Linked DNA regions of Homo sapiens. The protein of the gene in region 1 interacts with the protein of each later gene in a biochemical or structural test. Each region holds a gene or a part of one and is shown in the gene's direction. Other genes may lie near its edges.

Region 1 (10,590 bases):
ATTTGTTGTTCTGGAAAATGTTCACAGTATTATAAATGAGAACAACCTAGTTATAAATCAGTATATATTATATTTTGCTTATGAACATTTTTATTGAAATGATACTGTTAGCAGTAATTTTTCCTGAGTGTTGAAGAGGTAGTGATTTTATTTTATTTTGGTTAGTTGATCCTTTTCAGTTTTTCTTCATGTAACATATAATACTTCTGAGTAAAAAAAGTTACATTGAGTGGAAGAACATTCCCAGCCAAAATATTTAGGTGGCCATATAGTTAAAGGTATATAGTACAGTTGGAAAACGTCTTGTCCATAGCATCCAAAGTCATAAATTACAATACTACCTTTTAAAATTAAATGACAGTAATCACTCTCTCAAAGGTAAATGGTGCCTTTAATAAGAATGGTACTAATGGTATTACTATATAAGTGCACCTGGTTTTAAGTCAGTTTCCTCAAAATATGTCCCAGAAATCACCCGTGTAAAATTTACCTGGGATGATTATTAAAAATAAAGTACTTTGAATGGAAATCTTTGGGGTTAAAGTCAGTGAATATACATTGTATAAAGTTAAGTCATTTATATAAAATTTGAGGAATCTGATTTGTCAAGAACTAGAGTTAAAATGAGTAGTGTTTAATAATTTGTTGTATAAAAGTATCATACATTCTTTGGCTGGAACATATACATTCTTTTAAAATATGATTCAGTTTAAGAAAAAGTATGGATTTTGAACACATTTTTGTTTAAAACAACGCACAACCATATATTCTCTATTTGGCAACATTTGAGGGGTCCACTTCCTTTTTATCCACTATAAGATGACTTTATATACAACGAGTTATGTTTTATGTCCCATGAATTATATAGATGCTTTTTTATTCAAATTCATGGTATAGAGTACTCCAGAGACCACATGAGAAGAGCCTATGAACCCATGAGCTGCGTCTGTAATAAAGATGAACTACCTGTTTCTATTGTGGGTGCACAGACCCACTTAGCTTTGTTGATGTTCTTTCTGTAGTTTTATCCTGTGTCGAGCCTGTTCCTTCCAGACAGGAAGAAATGTGTGCTCTTGATTAAGTGCCTAGGTGAAGGATGATTCACGCTAGTCAAACTTATTTAATTTTGAGTATATATGGGTTTTTAAAAAATTAATTGGTATGTGAAAAGGATCTTTCACATTTTGTGCGTGATACTTAGCAAGTACCTTTAGGAAAGAGTTACTTTCTTATTTTTAAGTAAAAATATTCTCTTGATTATGGCTCTTTTTCTTTTTAATTTCAGATTTTGTTGATGGACCTATACACCACAGGGCTTTACTTATATCTGTGACTGTCTGTAGTTTGCTCTTGGTCCTTATCATATTATTTTGTTACTTCCGGTAAGTTTCTAACATGTAGATGCAAAATTTTTAATTTATAGTGTCTTCTTTTTACTAATATTCTGCTTTTGCCTGTTAGTGTTTCTCACCACAGCTTTATTTATCTTAATTAGATCTTATAGTTAACTGAAAATGTCTGTTACTGTTGATAAATATTTGTCCTAATGAAGTTACAAATAGATACCTATCTCATTTCTGCTTCAGACTTCAAAACTACCCATATAAATATTTTATCCCTAGGGAAACTAGGGTAGTTAGAGACTTCAGAGACTGGTTGTTACTTAGGTTTGATTCCAAGCAGAGAAATGGCCATGTTGAACTTAAGAGTTGCTCAAATTCCTTATTTTCTAAGCTATAACGTTTCTGATTATTAAAAGATTTTAAACATAATTTATAGATTAATCATTAAAATAAGGTCCTTTATTATATTAAATTCGGTAATTCCTATTTTTTTAATGGCCTATGAACTTATGTTCTAGATTGTGAAATATTAAGGACCTTGATATTTATGTCATTTGCCTTTTGATTAATTTATTACTCATTTGAGATACTCTGCAAATGGTCAGATTAATTGATTCAAATAAATTCATTTCTAATTGAAAACTTAAGTATTGACAAAAAGTTTTTAAAGATTAAATTTATATTATTTCTTTAGATATGACCTTATATAAGAGAGTTAGCTATAATGATTTTTGTACACCCAAAATTTACATCTTTAATTAATTAGGGACCTTAGAAAAGATTTTAAGGAATAATATTGGAGCTATTTAGAAACACTAGTAGAATGTAGTCTGCTTGGATATGTGCAATTTGAAATAAATAAAAGAAGAAAAATTGTAGATGCTTGAGACTGAGTAAAAATATGTAGTTTATTTAGTTTATTTTAAAAAATAGGTTAGCCAAACAGTAATGAGTTTTACTTGGGAAACCATAACTAAGAGTAAAAAATATGAAGCATTTAATGTATTATATTTAGGTGCTAAAATAAAACTGCTGTGATTACCATTTTAGTTGCAATATTTTACTCCATCATTGCATTTCATTATCTAAAATTATCTTCATCTATCCATCTTTAGGTATAAAAGACAAGAAACCAGACCTCGATACAGCATTGGGTTAGAACAGGATGAAACTTACATTCCTCCTGGAGAATCCCTGAGAGACTTAATTGAGCAGTCTCAGAGCTCAGGAAGTGGATCAGGCCTCCCTCTGCTGGTATGAGAAGAACACATCTTGAATTTAAAGGAAATGTTTTCTGAAAGAACTGTCAATGAATATGGGGTTTCACTTACTGAAATAGGGCACTGGACAAGGAGAAAGCTCTATGCAGTCTGTTGGACATCCGATCTCAGCTGCAGGGCTTCCTGATAACATTTTGACATATTGAGAGTAAGGTGATTGTTTTTTAATGTAGGTGTATGGTTACAATCCAGACCCTCAGACATTCTGATGAAGAGCAGATTAGAAAACATTAAACACGGGACCATCTTCCCTGTGTTTTCCATAAGGATAGCATTACCGCACTTTGGCCTGGCTTTTGAAGGCTAAAGTATTACAACCAACTGGCTTCTCAGTATTTCTACAAAGAAAGAGGGTTGCTTTTCAGCTGTGGGGTTTATGTTTCAGGGTAAAGTTCTGGCTTTTCCATTCAGGAGAAGCTTCATTTTCTGATGGTCAGCACTGCCAACCTTGAAGAGAATATATGAGCAAATACAATTTGAAAATCAATAGTATTACACTTATTTTTTTCTAAAAGAGATGTACAAATAGTAAAATCCCTTTTGGTATTAATGAATTAGATGCTCTTGGAATTTAAACTGAGTTCTTCCAGTGTTTCTTGCCTTCAAACTCATCTTTCCCATTACTGTGGAGTTCTTTCTCCAAAACCATTGATCTTGCACTGTTATGTCCTGGGTAAAATATCCTAATACCCAATACTGCTTGCAGGTCTTCTTTCCCAGCTTGGTATGTGTGGCACATAAACTCAACCTGCCTTCCTGACGTCTCCTCCCACCTCTTCCCAGTATGCTGCCTGGGCTCTAGCATCACCTTTGAGTAATTGTTTCTCAAATACAACATATATCCACGTCATTGCAAATGTAATCTCTTTACTGGACATCACTCCAACTCATGGCTCAAGGCCTACCTCATGTTTTACCTCTGTGACAACTTCTCAGTTACCCCAGACTAAGCCAGTCTATTTATCTTCTGTGATAACATTTTATTTTTAGCACTAATAATGGCCATTTAAAATAATGTTATAATTAGTGGTAATGTTCTTGTGTCTTTTGGTGGAGTCTGTCCTCTTTGGGGTAGAGGTTACATTTTGCTCACTTTCTATCCCCAGTAGAGTGGCTGATTTATTATAGGCGCTGTTCAATAATTTGTTTTTAAAAAGCTTTCAGCTCCTACTTTTAATAGCTATAAAAATACTGTCTTGTTTCTATAATCCAGATACCAAAAAATAATATTTGGCTCACATCATATAATGATTAAAAGCATATATTCTCAAGCCAAATTGTCTGGGTTCCAATCCTGGCCAGACATTGGCCTTTAAAACTAAATCAAATTCTCATTTAGTCCTCATAGCAACCCTATAAGGTAGTACCAGAAATATCAGTATAACCCTGTATTACACATCAGGGGATACAGGCCCAGATAGGTCAGCTAGCTAGTACGTGGAGAAGCCAGGATTCAAACCCAGATGATCTGTGCTCTTAACATTAGTGAGATGTGAACTAAATGTTGGTTAAATAAAACAAGAAAGTGCATTTGATGGCGGTAGGATGGGAAGGAGGGTTCTATAAAACTCAGTTCAATAAAGAAAAAGTCTCTATTACAGATTTATTTTCTGGTTTTAAGATTTGGTTATTAAGATAAACAATGCAGAGGTATACAGTTCTCTCTCCATATATTGATATGTGAGTGAATACCTCATCTTAACATTGATTTGTTATTAATTTTAATAACATAATGGGCAAATTAGTGCCTTATATATAACCACATACTTGGACCTTGTGTTTAACAAATGACTTTATACGTGCCCTTTAATTTTGCATCTTTTCTTTTTCATAAAATGTCAATTTTTTCCTACTTTAAAAGGAAATAATATCGTAGGGCTGTTGTAAGAATTAAGACTGTGTGTGTGTGTGTGTGTGTGTGTGTTCTGTGTATGTCTTCTCACAGTCCTGGAATAGTGATAATTCTTTATAACTCCTTATACATTCAGTTATTCTCAGAGTACATGAAATATAGTGATCTTTTTGAAAGTACAGTTATAGTCATTGTATCTTACAGGCATTTTATTTATACAATCAATCTAAAAAGTTGGTATCTAAGAATGTAATATAGAATTAAAGTTTAGGTACAGAAGGACCAGAAACATTTGCTAAATCAAATAAAAACTAAAATAAATCAGTTAAAAAATTTTGAAGTTATATTTTTAGGTCCTTACATGTTATAATAGCTTACTTTCTGTCTTTGGGATAAGTTGTTCCTATTCTATCAAGTATCGCCAATTCTGTCAAAACTTATAATTAAATTATAAAATGTATTATCGTTAGAAAAAAAAGCAGATGCAAAACTGCTTATGTTAGGAAATTCTCCATAGACTTACATGAGCAATGCTTTGTAAGATCTGTAAATTAAATATTTTTCTTTAATAAATGTGGGAAGTTTCCTCTCAAATGAGTGATTTCCCTGTGTATGAATTTGGCTCCCAACTGGTGCCCATGTTGCTCCTGTTTCCTTGTTTGGAAATGGAGTACAGTGGACTCAACATGATGTCTCATGGCGCACAGGGCTCCTAAAGAGAGGACGGCTGCATTACACATAAACTTGCTTGCTTATTTCCATCAAGCTTCAGTGGCTTCATGGTACATCAGCAGTTCTTTTTTAATAAATTACGAAATTTATAATCTTCATTATAAATAATATATAATATATAATGTCCCCCCAAAATGTTCATGCCCTAATCCCCAGGATTTTTTTTTTTTTAAGACAAGGTCTTACTCTGTCACTTAGGCTGGAGTGTTGTGGTGCGATCTTGTCTCATTACAGCCTTGACCTCCCAGGCTCAAGCGATCCTCCCACCTCAGCCTCCCAAGTAGCTTGTCACTACGGGTGTGTGCTACCACACCTGGCTAATTTTCATATTATTTGTAGAGCTGAGTTTTTGCCATGTTGCCCAGGCTGGTCTTGAACTCCTGGACTCAAGGGATCCTCCCTCCACAGCCTCCCAAAGTGCTGGGATTACAGGCATGAGCCACCGTGCCCAGACCTAATCCCTAGAATTTTATGTTCTATGACAAAGGTGAGCAAAGGTTGCTGACGATAAGATGAGATCATTCTGGATTATCTGGGGTGGCCCAATGTAATTGCATGGCTCTTAAAAGTACAAAAAGAAAAACTTTAAGTTTTTAATTGGTGTAAAGTATATCTCTACAAAGAATACGTTCCAGTTTGCTGATCAGGTGTTATAAGAGTTATACGCTAGATTCCTTATGTCCTCTAAATTATATAAATTGTAATAGATGCTTAGCCCTTTCAATCTTGGAACCATTGATATCAGAGTTCTTCAAATATTTTACTGTAAGTACAGATGTGATGAAGATCATATATAAAGAGACATTTAAATTTAATGCCACTTAACTCATATTTTCATTCTCTTTGTCTGTACTCCACTCTTTATAATATTGTTCAGAGCTCTCTTAGAGCTTGGTAAATAATATTATCTCCAACTTGTTACTTTCTCTTATTAACTTTTCTCTCTAATATGCTGGTTTGTCTACCTGTTTTGCATTTTTTATTGTGACAATTAACTGTCTCATTACAAAAATGTAATTTCCATTAATCTTTTCTTGCTTATTTTTTATTCAATTTTCATTTCATTTAGAGTTACTTGGCATTCTGTATCTCAGAATTCCAGTATGTAATCTGAAGAGGTTAAATCTACTTGGGTTGTTTCTGTTGACTCTCATTTATAGTGACTGTTTCTTTGTTCTAAAGAATTCATTCTCTATAATCTTCTCTCATTCTCTTTCTTTCTTCTCTCCCTCCATTTTTTTTTGTTCTCCTTTTTCCTCCCCATTCTTGGATATTTCCTTTATTTCCCTGTGAGCCCAGGAGTGCATTACAGTTTATTTCTTATGTTATACCCATGATCAAGTTGTATGGTGGCAAGAGTTCCTTCAAAGTACTATTATCCCGCCATAGTCACGGCATGAAAAGTATTCTGCAAATGGTTTCCTCAAGAGAGAGCATTTGTAATGAGGAGCCTTGGCATGCTACCAACCCATAGCAAATTTAGTACCATTTGATGCTCTCTGCTTAATGCTGAAGCCCTAGGTTCAGTTCCTCTGGTTTTAAAGGAGTCAGAGTTTAAACTCTGGATTCCAGTTCTGGTATTGTTCTTTGCCCAGACGGCAGCTTGGTTTATCGTTCCCTGGTCTGGTCTCAACTCCTTCCTTCCCTCCCTCCTTCCTCCCTCCCTCCCTTTTTTCTTCCTCCCTGCATATAGATTTCCTTTATTTCTGTATGTGCCTAACAATGCATTACAATTTTGTTTTGTTATATTTATACATGATTAGGTGTATGGTGACGAGTCTCTTCAGAGTATGTAGTAGTCCATTATAACGGGGAAGTGCAAGTATTCTACTCTGCTGATTACTATGAGCCTACTCAGGTTTTTTCTCTGAGAAAATAATAATACTAAAATAAAGTATTTCATAATTTGGAAGCAGTGTTTTGAACATTCAGAATCCACACTCAATCTCAAATATGTTTAAAAGAGTGTAACATAAATTAATAAATAAATACAAATAAGTTGTCTATATAGAGAAAAATACTAGCTAAATATATTTTACATGCAGTAATCGTTTCTTCTCTGGAGAAAAAAAGATTAAACAAATCTGTAGCGCTGTGAATACACTAACAGTGTGTTTTGGGATTTCACAGGTCCAAAGGACTATAGCTAAGCAGATTCAGATGGTGAAACAGATTGGAAAAGGTCGCTATGGGGAAGTTTGGATGGGAAAGTGGCGTGGCGAAAAGGTAGCTGTGAAAGTGTTCTTCACCACAGAGGAAGCCAGCTGGTTCAGAGAGACAGAAATATATCAGACAGTGTTGATGAGGCATGAAAACATTTTGGGTGAGTAAAAGTCTGCATAGCTATGTTCAGGGTTTCCTAGCTTTCCTCTGTCTTTCTGTTAACATCTGCATGTTAACTCATCTGTCTAGACCCGTTGCGAAATGTATTGAAGTTTTCTTCTTGGCATGGGCCCAAGAACATCATAAGTTTCTAATGGGAGACCTCACAGGAGGAATGACTAAGGCACTTCTGTGAGTAAGTGGTAGGCTGGAAATGGAATACTCTCAAATATTTTTTCTTCAGAAACAGGAAATGCGAGTGTAAAACCAGAATTTCTTAGGGTTTCTTAGGAATTTGAAGGAACTTATTTTTGTTTAAATGTTGAGAAAAGTTGTAGGAATCTTATCTGCAGGGTTTATTTATATCAATAGTTTATATTGAGAATTGATTTTGTTTCGCAAGTTAGAAATGATCTGTCTGGATCGTTCAAGTAGAAGGAGAGTAAGCTAATCAGTGGGGTATATTCCTTAATTCAAGAATTCAAGACCCTGTTTTGCAATGTCTTATGTGTAACCATAATACCATAAAGTAGTTTATATACCATAGTAGTTTGTAATACCATAAAGTAGTTTAAACATCAACTACTGATTAGGAAGGGACCATATTTTCAGATGTAAACTCTTAATCTTTCTCTACTCCTACAGGTTTTTTTCTTTTTCTTTTCTTTTCTTTTTTTTTTTTTTTTTTTTTTTTTGAGATAAAGTCTCGCTCTGTCACCCAGGCTGGAGTGCAATGGTGTGATCTCCGCTCACGGTAATCTCTGCTTCCCAGGTTAAAGCAATTCTCCTGCTTAGCTTCCCGAGTAGTTGGGATCACAGGCACATGCCACCATGCCCAGCTAATTTTTGTATTTTTAGTAGAGATGGGGTTTCACCATGTTGACCAGAGTGGTCTTGAACTCCTGACCTCAAGTGATCCACCCGCCATGGCCTCCCGATGTGCTTGGATTACAGGTGTGAGCCACTGTGCCTAGCCTTACTTGTACAATTTTGATTGCTTCTTATTGGTATTAGTCATTTAATACCATCATAGGCATAGTCAGGAAATTGAATGAAATGCTAAACAAAAATTATCTATGACAAAGAATGATGTTTGAGAATATGAATTATTCCTGATACTATTTGGAAAACACTAAACCTTTTCATCTTTTTTCCTTTTAGGTTTCATTGCTGCAGATATCAAAGGGACAGGGTCCTGGACCCAGTTGTACCTAATCACAGACTATCATGAAAATGGTTCCCTTTATGATTATCTGAAGTCCACCACCCTAGACGCTAAATCAATGCTGAAGTTAGCCTACTCTTCTGTCAGTGGCTTATGTCATTTACACACAGAAATCTTTAGTACTCAAGGCAAACCAGCAATTGCCCATCGAGATCTGAAAAGTAAAAACATTCTGGTGAAGAAAAATGGAACTTGCTGTATTGCTGACCTGGGCCTGGCTGTTAAATTTATTAGGTTAGTATCAAAGTGAACAAATACATGTTTTATGACTCTTTTCTGTTACTTTTTATTTTGTAGCGCAGTGCTTCTAGGATATTTAGTAGAAGAGGAATATCATTAATTTTGACATTTGACGGGGAGAACCACCAAACATTTTATTAGCAACACAGCATATTTGGGTCTGTTCTATTGTTTCTATGCTCATCAGAGACATTGCTTAGAGACTGTTCACATTAGGTTTGCAGCTGTCATTAAGTTATATAGAAAAGAAGTAGCTAATTCCTGGGAATACGTAGTCAGAATTCTGCATAACATTTGCAAGTAGGAAAAAGTTTTGGGGAAAATTTACAGATTATATATGGATAAAGACAATTTTTATATGGTATAGGAAAGATAACTTGCATAGATGTTTTGGGAGAAATGTTAGAAACTAATAAACAAAACCCAGCTGTTATTCAGTACTGTTATCCTGTACCTGAAACAGTGAATTTAACATCTGTGCACATAAACCAGAGCATGTTGTAAAACAGTGGTTTTCAGACCCTTAGGGCTGCTTGGGTTACATCAGTAGCTTCTTCACAGTAGGGAGGGGAGATGATAGTTGGGACTCTATTTTGCTTACTCTTACTTTAATCAGAGAGGCTCCTTCCGTCTCACAGATGATTTAATTCGAATAAATGGTTTCTCTGTTTGGAAAACAAAACAAAATGAGCTTGCAAACCACTGGTGTAGAGAAATCATCGTATAACTACCTTTTAAAGAACTCAGTTTAGGCTTAGCCATTAATAAATGTTGGATCATCTTGTGGATTTTTCTAAGTAAGACTCTGTAATACATGGAGAGGAGCACAAAGAAAAAGTCATGGAGATTATTAAAAGTTTGGAAAGTAAAATTCACAAAAAAAGACTGATTGATTGGTATTTTCGGCCAGAACTGAAGGCTGAGGTGTGATTTAATAACATACCCCAAATATATGAAGGTCTTCACCATGTAAAGGATGGGAAATTGAAGTTCTTGATCTTTAAAAACAAAGCAAGAGGAAATGATTTGGGCTATAGATTTAAGTTAGAAATATGAACCTCCTGCCAATAAAGATTATTAAATCCTTTCTCCCTTCTGATTTTTTTTTCCTCTGACCTACAACCCTTTTCAAGTCTTCCTATAAAAAAAAAAAATCCCACAATGCTTCTTAAATTACCAGCCTCTCTCTCCTTCTCTCACCCTGTTAAATTTCTCCCAAGAGTTCCAAAAGATCATCTGCTTCGAAAACCCAGCAATTTGTTAATAGTCTTGTAATTTGGCTTCTGTTCCATTCTCTTTGGACACTGCTGTATTCAGAGACACCACTGGGCTTGGTCACCAGAGGCCTTCTCTATTGCCATCACCCTATCCACAGTGTCCAAACCTTTCTTTCTCCTGTTTTCTTGGTGTATCTCTGTACTCCAACTTCTCCTTTCTCTCTCTCCACTGGCTCTGCTCTCTTTTTACCTCTTACATATTTTCCGACTGCTAGATTTCCTGCTGTATCTGCATTTCCTTCCTAGTTCCCAGTTTTGGCTGATCCATTCTTAATATTAGGTATCTGACATCATCTTTCGTTCCCTAACTTTTGGTTTG
Region 2 (10,590 bases), on another chromosome or scaffold:
GAGGGAAAGAGTGGAAAAGCCTCTCCAAGACTCCGTGGAAGACTTGCCTTGGACCCCTCTGGTCTTTGGAAGCAGAAATACAGGGCAAGCTATTGGGGAGGGCACTGGGGAAGCCAAGAGACATGAGAAAAGCTGGACTGGTGAATGTGTGATGAGAAGGAACACACACTGAAGACAGACCCGCCAACGAAACCTTCGAAAGTGACAAGCACCACAGGCCTGGCCTCATGCTGCAGCCCAAGGGGCCCTCCATTGCAGCCCTCCCCATCAATATGTGTCTGGCCCTTTGCACAGTGAAGATCAGTAACATCTGCCTCCTTATCCCCACCCCAGACTGGCCCTGTGGTCAGATCGTGCCCCCACAAAAGGACACCAAAGTGGGGAAAGAAACGAATCCTTAGGCCTCTCAGGGCTGCACTGCCAGCCAGGGAGTCATTTGGGTTAGCACAAGGGCTGTCACTGGCCTTGACCCCTGCAGAAGAGGAAACCTGCAAGAAGGGCTGGATCCTTGATGTGGCTGGGGTGGAGGTCATCTGTTCACCTGGCACTGTGGGAGGGACAGCAGTGGTGACAGGGCCTCACAGGACTGAGAAGAATCGGGATGATGAGGTGAGGCTGCAGCCTCCATGAGCCTTGACTTTCACTTGACTTCAGATAAGCAGGAACTGGAAGCGTCTTCATCTTTCTCATGCTTCCTAGCACCTTTCCTCCACTCACTTCTGGAATCTTGTGGAGAGAAGTGGACCACAAGGACTGAAGTCCAGAGAACTGGATTTCAAAGGAAGTCAAGAGAAGGACAGGTGCACCTTCCCCTAGAAGATGTAAGTAGTCACAGAAATATTGGCTGCATTCACTGGACGTCTCTATGTACTATGCACATCCCTGAGGTACTTTGACTCTGACCTTTACAATGATCCTGCAAGGTACAGGTGGTTCTCTCATTTTACAGCTGAGGCATATGAGGCTGGGAGAGATTATGCGACCCAGTCTAACCAAGGTCACCCAGCCACTAAGTCACAGATCAGGACTCAAATTTATGTCTCTTAGACTTTAAATTCCTATGCTCATTCCACATTGTCAGTAGTGACTGACATTTGCATTCAGAAGTCTTTCTCTCACACCTTATCTCATTTGCACCCCTCTGTGGCCCTGTTAATTTTCCTCCTAAATTCTCTTTCACAAGTCCAATCATCGACATTTCTTCTGCTGAAGTAATGACTGCTGTAGTTCTGCTGAAGTGAGTGACTCTTGCCGGCCAGGGATTGATGCCCTCCCTCCAGGCATGGGCAGCATGGAAGAGTTTCTCAGGGTTTCTACAAGGCACAGAGATCAGGGCTGGGATGTCTAGGGTGGTGGCACAGATACTGGAGCCAGATTGCCCACTCTACTACTTAGTATCTTGAGCCAGTTACTCAAGCTGTCTCTTTTAGTTTAGAATGATGGCTGTCTCAGAAGTGGTTTTGAGAATTAAATGAGTTACTACAAGTTAAGAATTTAGATCATGCCCAGAACAGATTTAGTGCCACACCAGTGTTTGCTCTTAACGATTATTATGCTGGGGGATCAGGCATGAGTATTGGGGTTAAGAAAAAGCACCCTGGAAAGGGTGAATTGTATGGACTGCTTCCCGAACTTACATCTCAGTAAGAATGTTAGCAATGCGTCAGCAGCTTGCAAAGCTCAGATCTCAACAGAGGCCTGACTCAGGATGAGTATCTCCTCAGGGGGAGGCCCAAGAGATCTGTATTTCAGGAAGAGGGTACATAGTTGGCACACAGATTCCCCTTAAAGCCCTTCACACTCCAGGAGGAGGGGTTGGTGGCTCATTTTTAATCACCCAGTACACCTGGCTCTATTTCCAACCTGATGGACTTTGCCCCCTCAGTGCAGCGCGGAAGGTGAGAGACTTAGTTGAGAAAATGACTCCAAGCCCAGTCATGAATTTTGAGCTTGGAGGTCTTCTTTGTAGTAAAGAAAAGAAAAAAAATCCTGGGGGAACCCAGCCCACCTTGATTACACTAATGATGAAGCTATGTCCTATTTCCTGGCCCCCTGCCAAAACAGGACCCTGGTAGAGCAGCATGGCTGCAGGACTGGGGTCAGAGTACTTGGAATTAGGACCTTCAACACCTGTCTCTTGCGCTGCAGGACTGGGGTCAGGGCACTTGGAATTAGGACCTTCAACATCTGTCCCTTGCTAGTTTCAAGACAATGGGCAAGATACCTCTTAGAGCTTTAGTTTCTTCATCTATAAGTGAGTATCACAGTAGGCCTGACCTTAGACGTTCGCTGTGAAAATTCAGTGAGAGAGGCCATCAAAGCTCTGAGCACGTGCCTAGCACAAAGGTGGTGCCCTACAAGCGCTCAATGCTGCTGCTGGCTCTAAAATGAGGGGGTAAGGGAAAGGCGCCTAGAGTTTCTCTTGCAAAGATGGGTGATTCTCCCTGCCTGGGGATTGGGGATGGGAAAGTCCACTATCTTCTCGACTTTCTGGACAGTGGCCTAGTCGCGGGGCCTGTGCCACCGGAGAACATGGCTGGGAGGCGTGGCGGGACGCCTGGCCAGTAGCTATCCAGGGTCACTGCGTACTCAGAGATGTGAGCCAGGTGCGCGCGGAGGAATCTCGTGGAGCCCAAAGTCAGCCGTACCAAGAATCCTGCAAGTCCGGGAAGTTGGAGCCGTGGGTGCACAGCCAGGCGAGTGACAAAATCCAACTAGGACTTTCAAAAGGGACCTCAAGCTGAGTATATATCTCAGAGATGTCTTGGGAAAATGCAATGCCAGGCCCTTCCCACCTCCAACCAAAGGAAGTTTCTGGTTTTTGGAAACCCTCTACAGGCTAGCCCAAGGAAGTAGCCCCCAGCAGAAGGCTCTGGGGCTGGAGTGGGCAGGCTGGAGTGGGCAAGCGCACAGAGTCCTGCAGCTACGTGTCCCTCCCTCATGCCGCCCTCTTGGGGCTCAGGTTCCCCGGGCGTCTGGCCTTTGGCGTTGCGGGCATCTTTTCCTTTCCGCTCTGGAGTTTGCCACTCCAACTTTCTCCAGCCACGTACTGTGACCGTGGACAGATGCCCTTTTCCTTTCTAGGCCAGTTTTCTCATTTAAAATGGGTGCAATGGTAATTACTTTGCAAATAGGTACCATTCCTTCTCTTGGTTTCTTTTTTTAGTTAAAATTTTATTTTTTACCTTATATTCACCCTAACTGAAAATTTGTACCCTTTGACCAACATCTCCCCTCTTTTAAATTTTTCCTAAATTCTACACCAGAAATATATGTTTGAGGTGCTTTCAGCCTTTTACCAACTCGTTGACCATTATGAAGGAGTATCTTCTAACATGCCACGGTTTGTTCCTTCCTTCTTATTTTTCTCTCTTCACCCTCCTTTCTCTACGTAGCTGCCAGGAAACGAAGATAAGCCCTAATCCAGCAATTGTAACTGGAAATGTTTATATGTCTAATGTTCAGCAAACACCGTTAACAGAGGTGTGAATAAGCTGTAACAAACCAGGTTGATGCAAAGTAAAAGGGAAATAAAAAACTCCCACCATGTATTTCTGGTCAATTTCAATTTAAGGGCCCAAAGCATAGGATTCACTTCCAGGATGTGGGAAAGTGCCACAGATTTTCAAGTGACAAGTGCATGTTTTTTTAGTCAAAGGGGTGGGAGAGAGGATCATTTGATGACATCAGTCTTCATTTATACAAGACTTAATGGGAGAGGAGGCTTTTGGAACGGAGTATGAAGGGCTGGCTTTTTGCCCACAGATGGCTCATGGCAGCTGAGCCAGGCTCTGTGATGCCAGGTCAGCAGGCAGCAGGCAAAGTGTCTTCAGGGTAACAGTGCATGGTGTTGTATTCACTCCCCAGGTTGGATGCCTCCTCTGAGCTATTTCTGTGATGCAGGTTTAGACAGGTAGGGAATGTGGTCTGCAGGGGAGCTGCACAGAGGAGCCACCTTCTTGGACCTTCTGTTTAGGGGTTAGAGGTTCTGGAGACCCAGAACCAAGAGAACTTGTGGCTGAAAGGATAAAAAAATGGGGGTGGCTTTGGGGGCCACGAATGGGCTGGGAGAGGTAGAATTGACTTGGTCCTGGTGAGTACTGCCTTAGATGCTGCCCTGAGCCCTGTGCTTTGCAGCACCTTGTTTGGTGCTCCCCCCTACTCAGTGGTGAATTCAAAGAACCTAGAGGACAACCCCCAGTTAGATCAGTGGTTCTTAGAGTAATTTCTTGGACCAGCAGAATCAGCATCATCTGGGAGCTTACTAGAAATACAAATTCTAGACCCTACCACAAGCCTCTAGAGCGAGAGAGAATTTGCATTTCTAGCAAGCGCCTATGTGATGCTGATGATGCAGATTTAAAGACCACTGCAGATTTAGTGGCTTTGAGAGTCACTATTCCAGACCAAGCTCCAGATACCTGGGCCATATAATTCTTGCCCAAATATCCCTGAGCTCACTTGCAGGGTCTGGACAGCCTCTTCATCCATTCAGTTCCCCCAAAGGTAGATCGAACCACTGATGTGTGCACCTGTGAAACTGTGCACAGCTTTAAGCTGTCAGCTGGGATGGCCACATGCTCACAGGTGAGGCCCCTTGAAGTAGGTGATGGAGCTAGTGTGGAAAGAGAAGAGAGAAGAAGCTGAAGTCCCATTTGCATTCTTGCACTGAAACGTGGAAAGGGTAGGGGTGGGCTGGTCTTGCTGGAAAGATCATCAGAAATCCTAAGGCTGCAGAATCAGTAGGAGATCTTTCTCTACAGATGCTTGCCTCAGTTTTAACTCAGCTGTGCAAATTAATCATTTATTAGCCCACACATTTTTTTTAAAAGAGTAAAAACAAAAGCAGGCTGATTTCCCCCATATTGCATGAGAGAGAAGTAAATCATAATTCTTTACACCTGCCTAATGCACTCCAGCCAGTGGCAAACCATCTCAAGAGTTGTGTAAGCAAAGATGGAAATGATTTCCTAAGGGAGCCTAGATTTTATTCCTAGCAAGCCCTGCAAATAATTTGGACTCTTTTCCCCTTTTCTTATACACTGGCCACTTCTGGTTACTTTTAGACTCCAGTACCTGGACTACAGTGGAGAGGCAGTGGGGTTTAGGGGCTAAATGCTCCAACTCTGAATTAAATAGACATAAGTATGGCTCTTAGCCTCACCACTTTCTGGCTGTCTGACTTTTGGCAATACCTTAATTTCTCCAATCCTTGGTTTTCTCATCTGTAAAATGGGAATAATACAAGTAATTACCTTTCAGAACTGTTCTGTGCAGGTGGATATAGATTGGAAATATGTTATTCCTAACCACATTTAGCTAGTGCAGCAAGTGCCTTAGATTTGTTGCTCTCATCTCATCCCTAGTTTGGGGAGAGAGGCAGGAAGCCAAGCCTAAGGCAGTACGTCCAGAGATCTGGGTGGAGGCTGAGCATTGTCAGACACAGGTTTCTTTGAAGGAGAAGAAAGTGTGCTGAATTCCGCCTGATTTTAATGTGACCCTGGTCTGTTTGAAGGTCTTGGCTTCCATAAATCAACTGCCTGCAGCAGCTTTTCCCTTTTCACCTCTCTAACCCTTCCCACACCCCATCTCAGGTTGGGGCATGTGCGTAAGAGTGAACCAGCCAGTGCTACGGTCAGCCCCGAGTACAAACTGGGTGTGGCAGAGGCTCCAGAGCCAGTGCCCCCGGGCTACATCTGGACTGGTAGAGAGGGTTGGATGCTGGGCCCAGTGACACTTTTACTATTGAAATCGACCCAAACTTTACTAGCTTCTGGGGAAGGCTGGGGGCTTTGGGGATTTTTGTATTTGCTGGGTTGTAAATATTTTATGGGAAGGCAGCCCAGGAAAATCTGGTTAGCTTTCCGCCTTGCACATTGAAGTGGAGTTGGCTTCATGCACAAATGTGTCAAAAAAGAAGTCCGGTTTTGCCTTGGTTCTGAAGAATTTGCCTTGGATTTTAAAAGCCTGTTACACTCCCCTACCTCACCTGTCCTAAATTTCTTTTTCTCACTTATGACCAAAACTTTTATCTTCAGGAATAGTTGCAAAGTGAGAGAATTTTAGATTGGGAGTGGGAGGAGAGATGGGAAAGTCTCTCTATCTCTCTCTCTCTCTCTCTGTGTGTGTGTGTGTGTGTGTGTGTGTATCTAATTGTCCCTGGCTGAGGTTTTCTGCCTTCCAGTTTTCTGCCTTCCAGGTATATATTTTTCTCATTGACTGCAGGATGTTCTCAATGGACAGATGCAAGGTGTGTGTGTTTGTTCATTTGTCACCCCCTGCCCCCAATACTTCTGAAACTTCATTGCTCTTTTGTTTGTTGTTTAATGATTGGTGAATAAATAAATAAATCTCTCACCAGCTCTTCATTCTGCCTGCACTGTGTTGGACCCACCAAAACCGCCTGATGGGCAGCAATGTTACCCCAGACTAGTGAGTCTAAACTAGAACTGCACCTTTAAGTCATCTTGGAGTTAAAAAAAAAAAAAAGCAAACAATAAACAAAAACCCCATGGCCAGTCCTGTCCTTAGACAGTGATTCAATAGGCTGAATCAAGCCCTGGTCCTGGCAGTTTTTCAGTTCTCCAGGACATTTTAGTGGGCCAGATTAAGATTCGCTGTCGTAGAAGTTTCCCACTTACCTGACCGGCGTGTGCTCCAGGTCAGGAACCGCCCTAGGCACTGAGGGGAGCAAGGTGGACAATGACATCGGCCTAGCTCCCGTGGGTTGGTGGAGGCAGACAGAGTGTTACTGGGAAAGGCAGACTACTAAGGAGATAAAAGTAAACAAGGTAATTGTAGATAATCCTAAGTACTGGGAAGATAATCAAGCCAGTCCTGTGATAGAGACCTGGAGAGGCTACCTTAGATCAGGGTGCTCAGGGGTGGCTACTTGGAGGAGGTGACATTTGAGACGTCAACGAGAACGAGCCAGCCCAGCCCAGAGGAGGTCTAGGGGAAACGCGGCCCAGGCTTGAGACCACAAAGGGCACATTAGTGGTTACGAAGCCTTTTGGGGGGAAAACCCGGTAGGCCGCCGCCGCCGCCTCGCCAGCAGCCACCGACTTCCGCCCTGAGAGTCCGGAGCTGACGCGAAGGAGGGGGCCCGTCCTGGCGCGCCCCCTTCCCCGCGCCATGCACCAGCCAGATGGGGAGCCGGGGTGGTCAGGCCCTGGGCCGGGCAAGCTGGACTGCCCGGCCGACCTGCCCCCACTCCCCGCCCTTTTCCTCCCGGGGCGGCCGAAGAGCACCGGGCTGATCTCCCCCTTAAGTGAAACTGACTGTAATTATTTTTTATCTCGCAGACGATCTCTCGCACACTCCTCTCCGGAGACAGAAGTATTTGTTTGATGTGTCCATGCTCTCAGACAAAGAAGAGCTGGTGGGCGCGGAGCTGCGGCTCTTTCGCCAGGCGCCCTCAGCGCCCTGGGGGCCACCAGCCGGGCCGCTCCACGTGCAGCTCTTCCCTTGCCTTTCGCCCCTACTGCTGGACGCGCGGACCCTGGACCCGCAGGGGGCGCCGCCGGCCGGCTGGGAAGTCTTCGACGTGTGGCAGGGCCTGCGCCACCAGCCCTGGAAGCAGCTGTGCTTGGAGCTGCGGGCCGCATGGGGCGAGCTGGACGCCGGGGAGGCCGAGGCGCGCGCGCGGGGACCCCAGCAACCGCCGCCCCCGGACCTGCGGAGTCTGGGCTTCGGCCGGAGGGTGCGGCCTCCCCAGGAGCGGGCCCTGCTGGTGGTATTCACCAGATCCCAGCGCAAGAACCTGTTCGCAGAGATGCGCGAGCAGCTGGGCTCGGCCGAGGCTGCGGGCCCGGGCGCGGGCGCCGAGGGGTCGTGGCCGCCGCCGTCGGGCGCCCCGGATGCCAGGCCTTGGCTGCCCTCGCCCGGCCGCCGGCGGCGGCGCACGGCCTTCGCCAGTCGCCATGGCAAGCGGCACGGCAAGAAGTCCAGGCTACGCTGCAGCAAGAAGCCCCTGCACGTGAACTTCAAGGAGCTGGGCTGGGACGACTGGATTATCGCGCCCCTGGAGTACGAGGCCTATCACTGCGAGGGTGTATGCGACTTCCCGCTGCGCTCGCACCTGGAGCCCACCAACCACGCCATCATCCAGACGCTGATGAACTCCATGGACCCCGGCTCCACCCCGCCCAGCTGCTGCGTGCCCACCAAATTGACTCCCATCAGCATTCTATACATCGACGCGGGCAATAATGTGGTCTACAAGCAGTACGAGGACATGGTGGTGGAGTCGTGCGGCTGCAGGTAGCGGTGCCTTTCCCGCCGCCTTGGCCCGGAACCAAGGTGGGCCAAGGTCCGCCTTGCAGGGGAGGCCTGGCTGCAGAGAGGCGGAGGAGGAAGCTGGCGCTGGGGGAGGCTGAGGGTGAGGGAACAGCCTGGATGTGAGAGCCGGTGGGAGAGAAGGGAGCGCAGCCTTCCCAGTAACTTCTACCTGCCAGCCCAGAGGGAAATATGGATTTTCACACCTTGCCTGGCCACCCTGGAAAAACAAGCCAAGGAGGATTTCTTTTGTTCTGTTTTCTCTCTCTCTCTCTCTCTCTCTCTCTCTCTCTCTCTCTCTCTCTCTATTACTGTGGCTTTGGATTTCCTTATGTGTCTTACAGGCTTTGATAGAAGGGGAGGGGAGGAGAGATGCATACCCGTTTCTCAACTGCTCCATGGATTGAAAAAATAACAGTTTAAAAAGGGAAACAATGTGGGAGGAAGAATCACCGTTGACGCATCTTGATTTGGTTGGTTTTTACATGTGTAAAGAAGGTGGGGTCTCTGGCCATGTCATAGCCCATGTCTTGTGCCCTCCCACACAGAAAGTGTTAGATAGGGAAATTGGCAAAAAGAATAGTTAAGTCAGGAATGGTCCTGCCTATAGAAGAGCTTTGAGAGAGGTGGGCCCACGGGTGCCCCTCTCACCCATTTGTGTACTCTGTGAGTTTACCAGCTCTGCCCTGGCCTCTTTCGGTACCAGGAACTGGCAACCTTCATCTCACTCCTGAGGGCCCAGGTCTCTGCCTTCATTGTTGCTTTTTCTGGTGGGGGCAAGGGGAGCTGGTATGGATGGAATGACAAGAATTAGTCCAAATGGAACCCCTTGAAGGATAATGAGAAACCACAAGGCCTGCCTCTGACTGGGGCTGACACGGAGGTGCATTAGCCCAGGCTGGAGGTAGCCCACCCAAATGCCCTTTCTGATTCTAATTGATTTCTTTCAACAGAATTTGCCAAAATTCAGACATGCACTTCTAAGGGGAAGGTGATTTTCCAGTTCAAAAAAATGGGCAGGAGTGGGGAACAAAACAATTAACGTAAGAGCTACAAAGGAGGGAAAAGGAACCAAGAAGTAGAAGGAGTCCCATCAGGAGGGAAGATGGTGGGCCTCAGGGAGGATGGGGATCAAGGGACAGGCCAGGAGCCAGGAGTGGGGAAGGGAGGGATGAAAGGGGACACAAGTCCCTGTCTCTGAAGTTTCTTTAAAATCTGAGTTCCCTCCCCTCTCTTTGACATTCCTGAAAGATTACCAGCCAGCAATAGCCCAGGGCTCCCCCAAAAGAATTGGTTCAGATTGTAATTATCAGTTAGGCAATGTTTTTAAAACTTAGTAATGAGAAACTGTGAAAAGAGCCAAGTGTTACATTGAGCTTGGGGTGGGAGATGGGGAACAGGCAGTGAGGAAGGAGACAGGGGTGGAATTCGTCTTCTGGGAGGAAGCTGGAGAGAGCACAGTGAAATTGAAATACCCATTCCCAGATAGTCAAAAACATGAACTTTCCCCCAGCCTGCACCAGTATTGTTTTCAAACATTGCCCATGAGTAGGCCCTTTGAAGAGTTAGCTTCCTCCTCATCTTTGACTATAAAATTGTTTAATCAATGGAATTTGTACCAGCCTTTTAAAAAGTTTTAGTTTTTCCTAAGTGATTTTGCTCTCTTCCAATCTAAACCTGTTGCTTGTTTGGTTCAGAGAACTACAAACTGTCAAAGAAAGGGTGGGGATGATAAGAAATGCTAATATAAAAATGCTAAGTGAAAAAAAGACTTGGCCAGGAGAAATAATTTAAAATGCACATTTGCTTTGGATGCACTGTTGTTCTGTTAAGGCTGTATATATTTGTTTATTTAAGGTGACTGAAAGTGCAAAGAGGAAATGGACAGCATGCAATTCATCCTAATGTACAAAACGTTATATGCACTCAAATGTTATAATTTCTAATATTTTTAAAGTTTATATTCGAGTTGTACAAAGTTAAGCATTAATCAGATATTTCATTTTTTCATAATGTTACCATTTTCTTAAATATTATTACAAAATTTTAAGTCTGTCTAATGGAGAGTTTTTTTTAAACTGTCTACCTCATATAATACAAGTATTTACAACGCTAAAGTTACCAGAGGTCAATGAATAATCAAAACATTTTTTACAGTACACCTTTCCTGGATGATATGCAATCGAATGCTATATTATTAAACGCATTTTTCTCCTTAATAACTCAGCCTGGTTTATATGGATCGATTTAGAAAAATCCTTTTCTCACAGAATTATTGTCAGAGGTAGTTTGTTCCAGTTTGGGACTCAATGC
Region 3 (10,590 bases), on another chromosome or scaffold:
CTCCTTATTTCATAGGAACAAACGAGAAGATTTTCAGTCCCAATTTCAAAACAAGAAAAAATGAGCAAAGCCCAGTTTATAAATGCTCATATGGATCCTGATTTTTATCTTTTCTCAATCCTGTTTCTCGCTGTCTCCTACTTTCCCTGTTTTTAGAGCTTATTAGCCATAAAGTAAGCTAGTCACTAATAGTATCATAAATAAATTTTTAAAACATAATAGAAGTATTAAAATGTAAATGCCACTGCACTACAGCCTAGGTGACAGAGTGAGACCCAGTCTCAAAAAAAAAAAAATAAAAAAGTTTTTTAAAAAATCATTTATTTGTAATTTATCCTAATTCGCAAAAAGATCTGTCATAAGCAGCACTAGCAAGATTTTTGGTAAAGTTGAGAGGGTCTGCCGTGTCGGGGTGAAAGCTGATTTCTATGAAGCGCCTTATCAGATGTGCCTGTCTCTCCTAATTGTGTCATGCCTGTGTCCTGGGTGGTACCACGCCTTTCAGGGCTATGGCAAGTCACTGTGCTTGTGCCTCACAGGTAGATGTGATCTGACTCGGGCATGTTTTATCCTGACGCTGAGACAGGAAAGAGTGGGAAGGAGCTTCAGGCAGTGCGCTATTTACCAGGCCATTTTTTCTTTCTTTCAGAGACTCTGACCTGTTTTTGTTGGACACCCGTGTAGTATGGGCCTCAGAAGAAGGCTGGCTGGAATTTGACATCACGGCCACTAGCAATCTGTGGGTTGTGACTCCACAGCATAACATGGGGCTTCAGCTGAGCGTGGTGACAAGGGATGGTAAGTTATTATCCGCAAGCCTCCAACGTCCAGCAAGTCATCAGTTTCACACATTTCCCTTACAGCAGTTGTGATAGAACCGTGGGCAACAGGCAAGTCCTCAGCTTCAGGATGGCCTCATTTACTGATCCCCCATGACTTGCATTGAGAACCAAAACCTTTCCCGGAGGCCTCCTAGACAGGAATTGAAAACAGGCTTGGGCAACTTGGAGACAGGAGAGTGGTAATGTTTCCAAGAGGATGGCGATGGGAGGACAGCTTTTCTAGGCAGAGGCAGGTTGCGGGGGATGCAGCGAGTAAGAGAGAGGCAGGCGCATCTGTTTAAATCCTGACGGATGAACAGGTTTGCAGTACCCACTCCTCCTGCAGCATCAGAGCCAGCAGCTTGAGGTCCCCACTGCTGATCTGTCCACCAGGGAGGGCAGGGTAACTGCAGATTCATAATCTAGCAGAAACAGGAGAGCCCAGGAGTTCACGCCACTCCTTCATGTGATTCTGAAACTTTGAAAGGAGTGCTTTGATTCTGCCAAAAGATGCCATCCCATGGGTGCCAGGCAAGGTTTGGGGATACATGATCTTCTTCTTCACACTCATTCTTAAGGATTAGCACTTAGGAAACTAGGAAGTATCCCTTAACTGTTGTAGCTACAGGAACAAGTTTCTGTGGAATAAAGAGATGCATGCTTTGATTTGCATTAAAGGAGTCCACGTCCACCCCCGAGCCGCAGGCCTGGTGGGCAGAGACGGCCCTTACGACAAGCAGCCCTTCATGGTGGCTTTCTTCAAAGTGAGTGAGGTGCACGTGCGCACCACCAGGTCAGCCTCCAGCCGGCGCCGACAACAGAGTCGTAATCGCTCTACCCAGTCCCAGGACGTGGCGCGGGTCTCCAGTGCTTCAGGTGGGTTTGTGGGGAGCCTGTGTTTCCAGAAAGCCTTGTTGGCCTCAGTGAGAACAAAAGTTGTGTCCACAGTCTCAGATGTCGGGCAGCTTCTGCACAGCAAATCCAAAGGCAAATAGGTGTCATATGCATGATGGTACCTTGTACAGTCGCAGAACATCTGCGTGGGTTCTGAGGGCCCTCAGCCTGGAACACTTGTTACCTGAAGACTCAGGCTGCCCGCATCATGACTGCCTGTTGATCCAGACAAGCATCTTTCTGTTTGGTTACATTTCTCCAACTCTTTTTTAAATTCCCATCAAAACCCTGGGAGCACCTAGATTCTTTTTTCTAGTTGCGTTATGCTGGGGGGTTATGATGTGCAAGCGAACTTGGTACAGTTGTGTAATATGAACTTGTATTTGTCAGTGCTCTTGGCTGGAAGGGAAGGAAGGTCAACTCAGCCCTCTAGGATGGATTTCTTTGGCTCATTTAATGGAGAGGTTGAGGGTTTTTTTGTTGTTGTTGTTTGTTTTTGGGAGACAGAGTCTCCCTCTGTCGCCCAGGCTGGAGTGCAGTGGCACGGTCTCGGCTCACTGCAAGCTCCGCCTCCTGGGTTCATGCCATTCTTCTGCCTCAGCCTCCCGAGTAGCTGGGACTACAAGTGCCTGCCACCACGCCTGGCTAATTTTTTGTATTTTTAGTAAAGACAGGATTTCACCATGTTGACCAGGATGGTCTCGATCTCCTGACCTCGTGATCCACCCACCTTGGCCTCCCAAAGTGCTGGGATTACAGGCATGAGCCACTGCGCCTGGCCAGGGGTTCTGTCTTTAGGCATGGCTGGATCCATGGGCTCAGATGATAATCAGGAATCTCTCTCTTTTTCTGTTTTTCTATTTTTCTTTGTTGGTGGAATTCTTAGTAAAACTATCTCTATATGGTGGCCAGGAAGGCAACCAGTGGTTCCAGGATTTTTGTTACCCTTGGCAACCTCAACCTCAGACAGAGCCCTTCTTCAGCAGAAATCCAGGGCACGACTCCGGTTGGCTTGGCTGGGGTTGCGTCCTCCAACCTGAAGCACACTGCTGGGTGGGGAGTGCTCTGATTGGCCAGACCTGAACTGTGTGCTCACCCGGGAGCTAAGGAATAAGGTGAGTCCCATTCTGCTCAGAACAGACACATTCAAAGGGCAAGAGAGAGAAACCAGCTCTGCTACCTGAGTGTCAGCTGAGTGGTCCTTCAGAAGTGTTCTCCCTGGCAGGGTGCAGTGGCTCATGCCTATAATCCTCACACTATGGGAGGCTGAGGCGGGCGGATTACTTGAGGTTGGGAGTTCGAGACCAGCCTGGCCAACGTGGTGAAACCCCATCCCTACTAAAAATACAAAAAATTAGCTGGGTGTGGTGGCATGTGCCTGTAATCCCAGCTACTTGGGAGGCTGAAGCAGGAGAATCACTTGAACCCAGGAGGTGGAGGTTGCAGTGAGCCAAGATTAAGATTATGCCTGAGTGACAGAGCGAGACTCCATCGAAAAAAAAAAAAAAAAAGTTCTCCCCAGTGTGTTTTTAGGAAGTGGCATGGAAGTCCACCCATGGAAGCCCAGAGGAAGGGAGAGTGGATGTTCCCTCCCCACAGCCAGTCCCGTAGCTAGTTAGGATTGAATGGAAACCCAGACACTTCTGACTCTAATGCCAGTGCTTGCAAATTCTGGGGTCCTTTGGCTATTTAAATAGCTTGAGAATCAACCATAAAGGTGAAGATTGGCAGTGGGATTTGCAGCCAGAGAACTTGTTTCCCTGGTTGCTACCCTGTGATTTTGGACACATTTAATCTGTTTCAGCTTCCATTTACTCATCTGTAAGATGGGGATGATGAATGCCTTGCAGATTTGCTGGAATTAAATGAAAAGCATCAAAATCTGGCTCATAATAGCACTCAAAGATTATTTATATGCCATTGTAGGAAGTAGGTTCTCAGGGCATATGTTGGGATCCCTGGAAAACAAGTAAAATAATTCTGGAAGATGCATTAATTCTTCCAGGTAATTGTACAGAAATGTCATTTTTGGTGGCCAAACATGTTGGGAAGAGTTAATGCAACTTCCCAAAGTACCTATTTCTTCTTTGGGAAGCAGTGTCTCCATTTTGTGTTCCGACTTAAATCAACCATCTATTTTACCAGTAACTTGGATGTGGAGCTTGAGGATCCACCGCCCAGCGTGATGTGACATTTTGCTTCTTGTCATCCTGGTGTTTCTCGGAAGCATTGCTCACAGCATGGGTGTTCCTGTATTCACCACTAGAAACAGTCAGGGTTGGGGTTTTTGAAAAAGAGAAGAAATGCTTGCTTTCCTTTATTCACTTCAGAGGCAGCCTGCTGAACAGAGTTAATAATCTCAGTGTTTTCCTTCGGGCTATGATGATGAAGTCTGCCAATGGTAGGCTTCAATTTATTAATGGAAGTCTGCCAATGGTAGGCTTCAATTTATTAATGAACTGTGGTCAGTTTGGTGCTGGGACCTCAGACACAGAGGCATCTCTTGAAATGTTGATTGCTTTTTAAAATTAAAACTTCACTTGATTTTATTCAGTACCCCCCACCCAATGCACACACTAATGTTTTTAAATTGAGAAAAGATGTTGTGTCTGATTTTGATTTTAGCAATATCAACCAATTATTATTTTCCAAGTCCCTTTCAACTTTTTTCAATTTGATGAGTTTAAATTAAATATGGATATTCAAGTTGATCTAATTAGTAATAGGTGCAAATATCTCTGTTTTTCAGTGGTCTCCCCCCGCCCACCTCCCAAGCCAGTACTTCCAAATTTGCTTTGTCCCTTTCAGTAGTACAAAGGCAAAAGGGTTCATACGAAATCTCTCCGGTCTCACCTATTTAAAGGCCCCCAAGAAAGAATGACGATGAAGGATGCTCCCTCCTTCTCATTCTCTTCAAAGATCCTCTAAGTGATCTGGGAAATTGCTCATGTCTGGCCCACTGAAGCGCTTCTTTATATTTTTGGCTCTTTCTTCCTTATCTATTCTTCCATTAATGGGAGTGGACATGCTGAGGAAGAGATTCCCAGAAAAGATTTCCAGAGAGATGGCCTGCTACCTGGAGAAATGGCCTGTCTGGTGTTCCTCTCCCTCGGGGTCTCTGTGAGGCCAGATGTTGCTGGGCCTTCATGAACCAGGTAGACATTACAGTAACAGAAAAGTGGTGTACTCTGGCGTGACTGCAGGCAGACTTTCTGCTTGTAAATCTTTTGGAAGTTGGAAGGAAAAGATTGCATTGTCTCTGCTGCCCCCTTCTTCCATGGCGTGCTCCCAGGGAGTTGATAGTTCTCCACCAAAACAACCACCACCAGAAGCAGCCCACCAGGGATCGTCCTACATCTGGGTAAAGAAGTTAGCATTCATTCATCAAATTGCCTGTCATCAGGGTGAAACGTGGCAAGGAAATAAGAGGCTATTTTTGGAATTGTGCTGTCAGTGCCTGAGACGGCAAGACTAGTGCACAGCAGTGGAGAGGCCAGGAGCCCCACCACCCACCAAAATCTACTCAAACATTTGTACTTGGCTTTCAAGCTGGACTTTCCAAACATGTGCACTGGATAGTGGTTTGGATCGACGTCTCCCTGGATGGCTTTCACTTGCCCTTGCTTCTCTGCAGCTGGCTGCTCTAAATGAAGGCTGGATGTTGGTTGGCTCTGTTATACTTCTCCAGGGGCTTGGATAGCCTCTGCATGGTATCATTTATTGTTTTTACACATGTTTGACTAGTCCTGGTCCTAGCCGTCTTTGCCCCATTGGGGATTTTAACCAATCTACCAATTCTTTTTCAGCCTCCATTTCTTACCAGCCTGCTGCTCTTGCAACACCTGTCCTCAGGTTCTATAGCTCCAGTTTGGTGGTCTCCTTCTACTTGTTATCATTCACTCTCTTTTATGGTAGCTCTCACTTGGGGTTCACTATTTTATCTTCTGGGGGACTGTGATACCACTTGGCCAATCCATGACAAGGTCCATGAACAAATGGCCTTGAAGTTCCATTGGGTGATTCTAAATTTTCATTTGGCTAATTTTCCGGATCTTTCCAAGACCTCTTTTGAGAGGGTGTAGCTAAAGCAATTTCAGGTCAGCTGGTAAGTCTGAAGTCTGCTCTGCTGCTGCTGCTGTGAGGCAGAATTGGTCTTTGTTTTGATAGATGAGTTTGGAAACATTATCTGCACTTTAATGATCCATGTGAAATTGGAGTAGTCTCTTTCAGTCTTGATGTTTATGTTGTCACTACCCAGCTCTGCCAACCATCTATGACCCAGCAGCCTCTTGAGACACTGTCTGTCCTTTGGAATGAGTCTGCCATTGTATCAATGCCACCTATTAGCATTTCTTTTTTGTTTGTTTGTTTTTAAGACAGTTTCACTCTTGTTGGCCAGACTGGAGTGCAATGGTGCCATCTCAGCTCACTGCAACCTCCTCCTCCCGGGTTCAAGCGATTCTCCTGCCTCAGCCTCCCAAGTAGCTGGGATCACAGGCATGCACCACTACTCCTGGATAATTTTGTATTTTTTTAGTAGAGACGGAGTTTCACCATGTTGGTCAGGCTGGTCTCAAACTCCTGACCTCAAGTGATCCACTTGCCTCGGCCTCCCAAAGTGTTGGGATTACAGGTATGAGCCACCACATCTGGCCAGCATTTTGTAGAGTAAGTTCTCCTTCCCTCCTTTTCCCACCCCCAAACATGTATCTTTAAGGACCTTGGGGGAAATTGTGGCTCTAGTACATTCAGGGATACTCCTGACCTTCTTCTTGATAGTTTATATTTTCTGTCCTTTAAGCTTCCCGGTTGGGACTATTCAATAGGCTTTCAGCGTAAATTAACCAGGAGTCATCTCTTGCAAAACAGCTGTTTGAGTAGTTTATTATAACTGTGCAATCTTGTGCTATACATTTCAAGGAAATCCAGTCCAGACTGGGGGTCTCATTGTTACAGTGTCCTCACTACTTCACCATTGGCTTCCATGGATTGGGGATAGCCAGAGCTGACTGGGTCGGTCCACCATGGACATTCAAAGCTTGGGAAGAATAGACACAGGTCAAGACTGTGAACTAGCAGTTTCTAGTTCTCCAGGAAAGTTGGGAATTGTGATTTGTCATTGTGATCTTAAACTTTTAGGGCCTGCAGCTTGGCTTGCAGATGTCTTAAGTAGAGTTTGGTTCAGGGCTTCCTATATGAAATCAAACCTTAATTCTCCATAGACATGGAGGACAGTCATGGCAAATAGTGATCTAAAAGTTAGAATCACCAAAAAAAAGTTAGAATCAAAAGCTTCACTTCTATCATGCACAACTCTTGTTCGAGGATAATGGCTATCAAAGAGTGGAACAGACTGGAAAGTTCCCTTCTACCTCCTCCCAAGGTTCACTCCTTGCAAATGTGCAAATGGCAACAATTCTAAAAGGCAATAAGAAGAAGCTTATGCAGGTACCGTGAGATGCCTAAGTCATTCCCAATCATTGCCAACCCTGGGAGGGCACTGGGGCCAGGAGACTCAGTCTAGGAAGTGGCAGAGAGTATAGAAGGTGCTTAGAGCACAGAGGGTCTTAGAGCTAAGTTTTTAAAGGAAATCTTTGTCTATTTGCAGGACAGTTCCATATTCTTTTAGAATCAAGACAAAGGCTGAAAAGAGACCAAAGTCCCACCCAGATTAAATGGGGCCTTATGAGATCCTGAAATCTCCTGGAGCAACCAAAAAATAGGGCCTCACTGTTGCTTCTCAATGTTGACCATCCAAATTATAAACAAAATCTAGACTCTGATCAAACTGTCCACCCCCACCCCAGCCCTATCAACTGTTAGGAGATTATTGACACCAGAAATCAAAACCCCAGTGTGGTCCCTGGCCTCCCGTAGTGTCGGTGACACAAGGAGCTGGCACCTGCTGCGCGTTCTTCAATGGCTGTATTGATTCTGCTGGGCGAGTGGGAGCGAGAGGCTTGTTTTGGATAAGATGGGGCCGATAAGGCCCAGAGATATGGAAAGAGCGGCCAGGCCCATGAAGACAGAGGTGCCACTTTAACGACCTCTATGTGGCCCTCACCCTTGTCATTCTAGGAGAGAAGGGAAATTAAAGTAGTGAATTATTCCCTCTAAAAAACAAGTTTCCTTTGGGAAGAGTCTGTAGCCTGAGCTCAGGAAAGCTGGGAAATACATGTGGAGCATGCCGCTTTGTCCAGTCCCCTGCCATGCTGGTATTTTCTTGGCTCTGTGTGACCTGCTGAGCGGGGACACCCGGCTGAGCTGGCAGGGCCTGCGGGGTCAGCCCAGGGCAGCCGAGTGGCCCCTCTGCAGAAGCCCTGGTGAGGAGACGACTCCCTGCCCACCTCTCTCCCTCTCCCTCCCCACCTCTCTCCCTCTCCCTCCTTCTCACCTGCTTTCTGTGGTGTCCCTGACATTCTCTCTCCCCTGCCTTTGTTTCCCTTCTCCCTGTCTTGCCCTTTGTTTCGCTGTCCTCCTCTACTGAAGTTGCAAAGCACAGCAGGCAGGGTCACTGGGACCCAGGCTGGCTCTGGCTGCCGTGACTCAGGCGCACCCCCCCTGGGAGCCCACAGGCTTGCTGCAGCGCCCTAGCCCCGTCATACTCACAGCAGCAGCTGCGTGGTGGCCCTCCAGCCCCGCGGTGCAGCCTCCCCGCACAATGCCTGCCTGAGAGTCAGGATGGTGGCTGCGCCCTTCCCTTCTCCTCTGGGTCTCATACCTATGGGCCTCTCCTGGCCTCCAGTGCCAGGGAAGCCTGCCTGTCACTGGCCCATCATGGCATATAGGGATTGAGCTTCAGAGCTAACCAACAGTGGGCTCCTTTGCACTTCGCTGTGTGCGTGGCTCTTCAGGAGGGCCAGATAAAAAGGATGCTGGATGGAATTAACCCAGATGTTATGCTTAGTGTGGGGTATGACCCCTGCATTGGGGGTATAGGCAATGTATACAGTGCATGTGCCGCTGCCTGGGGACATGGCTTCTGTGAGGAAGTCCCAGCCCAGCTAGCCGCCTTCTGTTGGGGCCAAGGGTGCCCTGTCCTCACTGCACTGGATGAGAGAGCTATTCTGCAGTTTTCAGTTTGCCTTGGGACGATTAGGATGCCCTGCCCCGTCACTGTCACATGGGCCCCGGCAGCCTTCCCATTTGTTTTCTCCTGTAGATGGAATGTCTCCTCAGTCATCACAGGGGAGACCAGGACTTAAGGTCGGGGAGCAGAGGCTATCAGCAAGGAAGCTGATTGTCAGGTCCAAGGCCTAGCAACTGAGATGAGAACTCCCCACCAGAACTGAGCAGACTGTAGGAGCTCAGCAGAGCCTGTGTGGAACGTGCACCTGCAACAGGAGGAGCAAGGGCAGGAAGATGCTAGAGGACAGAGAAAGGGGATCAGCCAGAGGCGTGTGTGCTGGGAGCTGCAGCATGTACCCCTGATGGCCCCCAGGAAGGGAGCTATGGCCCCTCCACCACCACCCTCAGAACAGGACTCTCAGATGTGAAAGCTCAGTTGTGTCTCAAGGACAAGAAGACTCCATCACTGTGTCCTCCCTCCCATCCGCTGGACTCCAGAAAAATGCACCTCCATATGGCTCCTTTCAAGTTAGCCCCCAACCCCTCCCAGGTGTACTGGCCCCCAGGTAACATGGAGGAATGACAGATAATGAAAGACACACCTGGGGCTTGGGAGAGGGATTTCAGAGCCATGGCTGGACCTGATGCTTTATTCCGAGGTGAATTCTGGATTGGAACACCCCGGTCTCTTATGGTAGAAAATGGCAGGCACTTCCACATGGTCCCGCCATCGGGAATGGATGGGACACTTCTACCTGTTTCTCTACCACTGATTGCATCGTGCAGAAGGCCTAAATGAGATGCAAGCCTCCCTTTGGCAAAGTATTGGAAAAATGAAGGCAACGTATTGGAAACATAAAGGCTTCATAAAGACACGCTTTGGGCACCACAGCTGGGACCTCTCTGCCCAACTCTGTTCTCCTTCTGAGGGGGATGGTGCCTGTCTCTGCCACCTTCTTTTCCACTACAGATCATGGAGAGTCTTGCTGAAGAACCTTCCTTAGGGGAAACAGGCATGTCTGTCTTGGATCTTTTTTTTAAAAAACAACAACAACAACAAAAAAAAACGGGTCTCACTCTGTTGCCAGACTGGAGTGCAGTGGCACAATCTCAGCTCACTGCAACCTCTGCCTCCCGGGTTCAAGCAATTCTCCTGCCTCGGCCTCCCGAGTAGCTGGGACTACAGGCATGTGCCATCATGCCCCTCTAATTTTTTGTATTTTTAGTAGAGACAGGGTTTCACCATGTTGGTCAGGCTGGTCTCAAACTCCTGACCTCAAACAATCCACCTGCCTCAGCCTCCCAAAGTGCTGGGATTACAGGCGTGAGCCACCGCGCCCGGCCTGTCTTGGATCTTTAGAGTTCATCTCCATCCCCGAAGGGAGTTGTAGAAGCTTCCTGTATCATGGGCCCCACTTGCCTGTCCCACACTGTGAGAGGAAACCCATTTACATCTCATGTCCAAAGCCATTTTTTTCCTACAAATAGTTTTGTGTGTGTGTGTGTGTATTGAGGGGTTATAAAGGAAAGCAGAATATTTTATCATGGTTTTTGCTTCAGTGGCTTTAGGACAAATTAGAACTCAACTCTGGTGCTAGAAAAGAAAAATCTCCACTTAAAACCCATGTTCAAATATCTGTAATGTTCATTTGGAGAAGAGAGGAAGGATTTGGGCTTTTTAATACTAATTGTACCTGAAGGTTTCCCTGCGGAAGCAGTTTATTAAATGGGACTGAAAGCCGCGCTGCTAAAGGCAATTAACATCTGATACATTCTCAAAGCTCAGAAATCTTTGGTGAGAGGAATG

Evidence for each region.
Region 2: the proteins of BMPR1B (region 1) and GDF6 form a complex in vitro, tested with the Homo sapiens proteins (one study listed by BioGRID).
Region 3: the proteins of BMPR1B (region 1) and BMP6 form a complex in vitro, tested with the Homo sapiens proteins (one study listed by BioGRID).

Annotation. Positions count from the first base shown.
Region 1 is NC_000004.12:95,122,525-95,133,114, forward strand, and holds part of BMPR1B (bone morphogenetic protein receptor type-1B isoform b precursor), read left to right. Parts: intron 1-1,285; coding exon 1,286-1,382; intron 1,383-2,458; coding exon 2,459-2,597; intron 2,598-7,337; coding exon 7,338-7,530; intron 7,531-8,690; coding exon 8,691-8,988; intron 8,989-10,590. UniProt on the Homo sapiens protein: On ligand binding, forms a receptor complex consisting of two type II and two type I transmembrane serine/threonine kinases.
Region 2 is NC_000008.11:96,142,239-96,152,828, reverse strand, and holds the end of GDF6 (growth/differentiation factor 6 preproprotein), read left to right. Parts: intron 1-7,304; coding exon 7,305-8,266; 3' UTR 8,267-10,496; downstream 10,497-10,590. UniProt on the Homo sapiens protein: Growth factor that controls proliferation and cellular differentiation in the retina and bone formation. Plays a key role in regulating apoptosis during retinal development.
Region 3 is NC_000006.12:7,860,802-7,871,391, forward strand, and holds part of BMP6 (bone morphogenetic protein 6 preproprotein), read left to right. Parts: intron 1-649; coding exon 650-798; intron 799-1,499; coding exon 1,500-1,697; intron 1,698-10,590. UniProt on the Homo sapiens protein: Growth factor of the TGF-beta superfamily that plays essential roles in many developmental processes including cartilage and bone formation.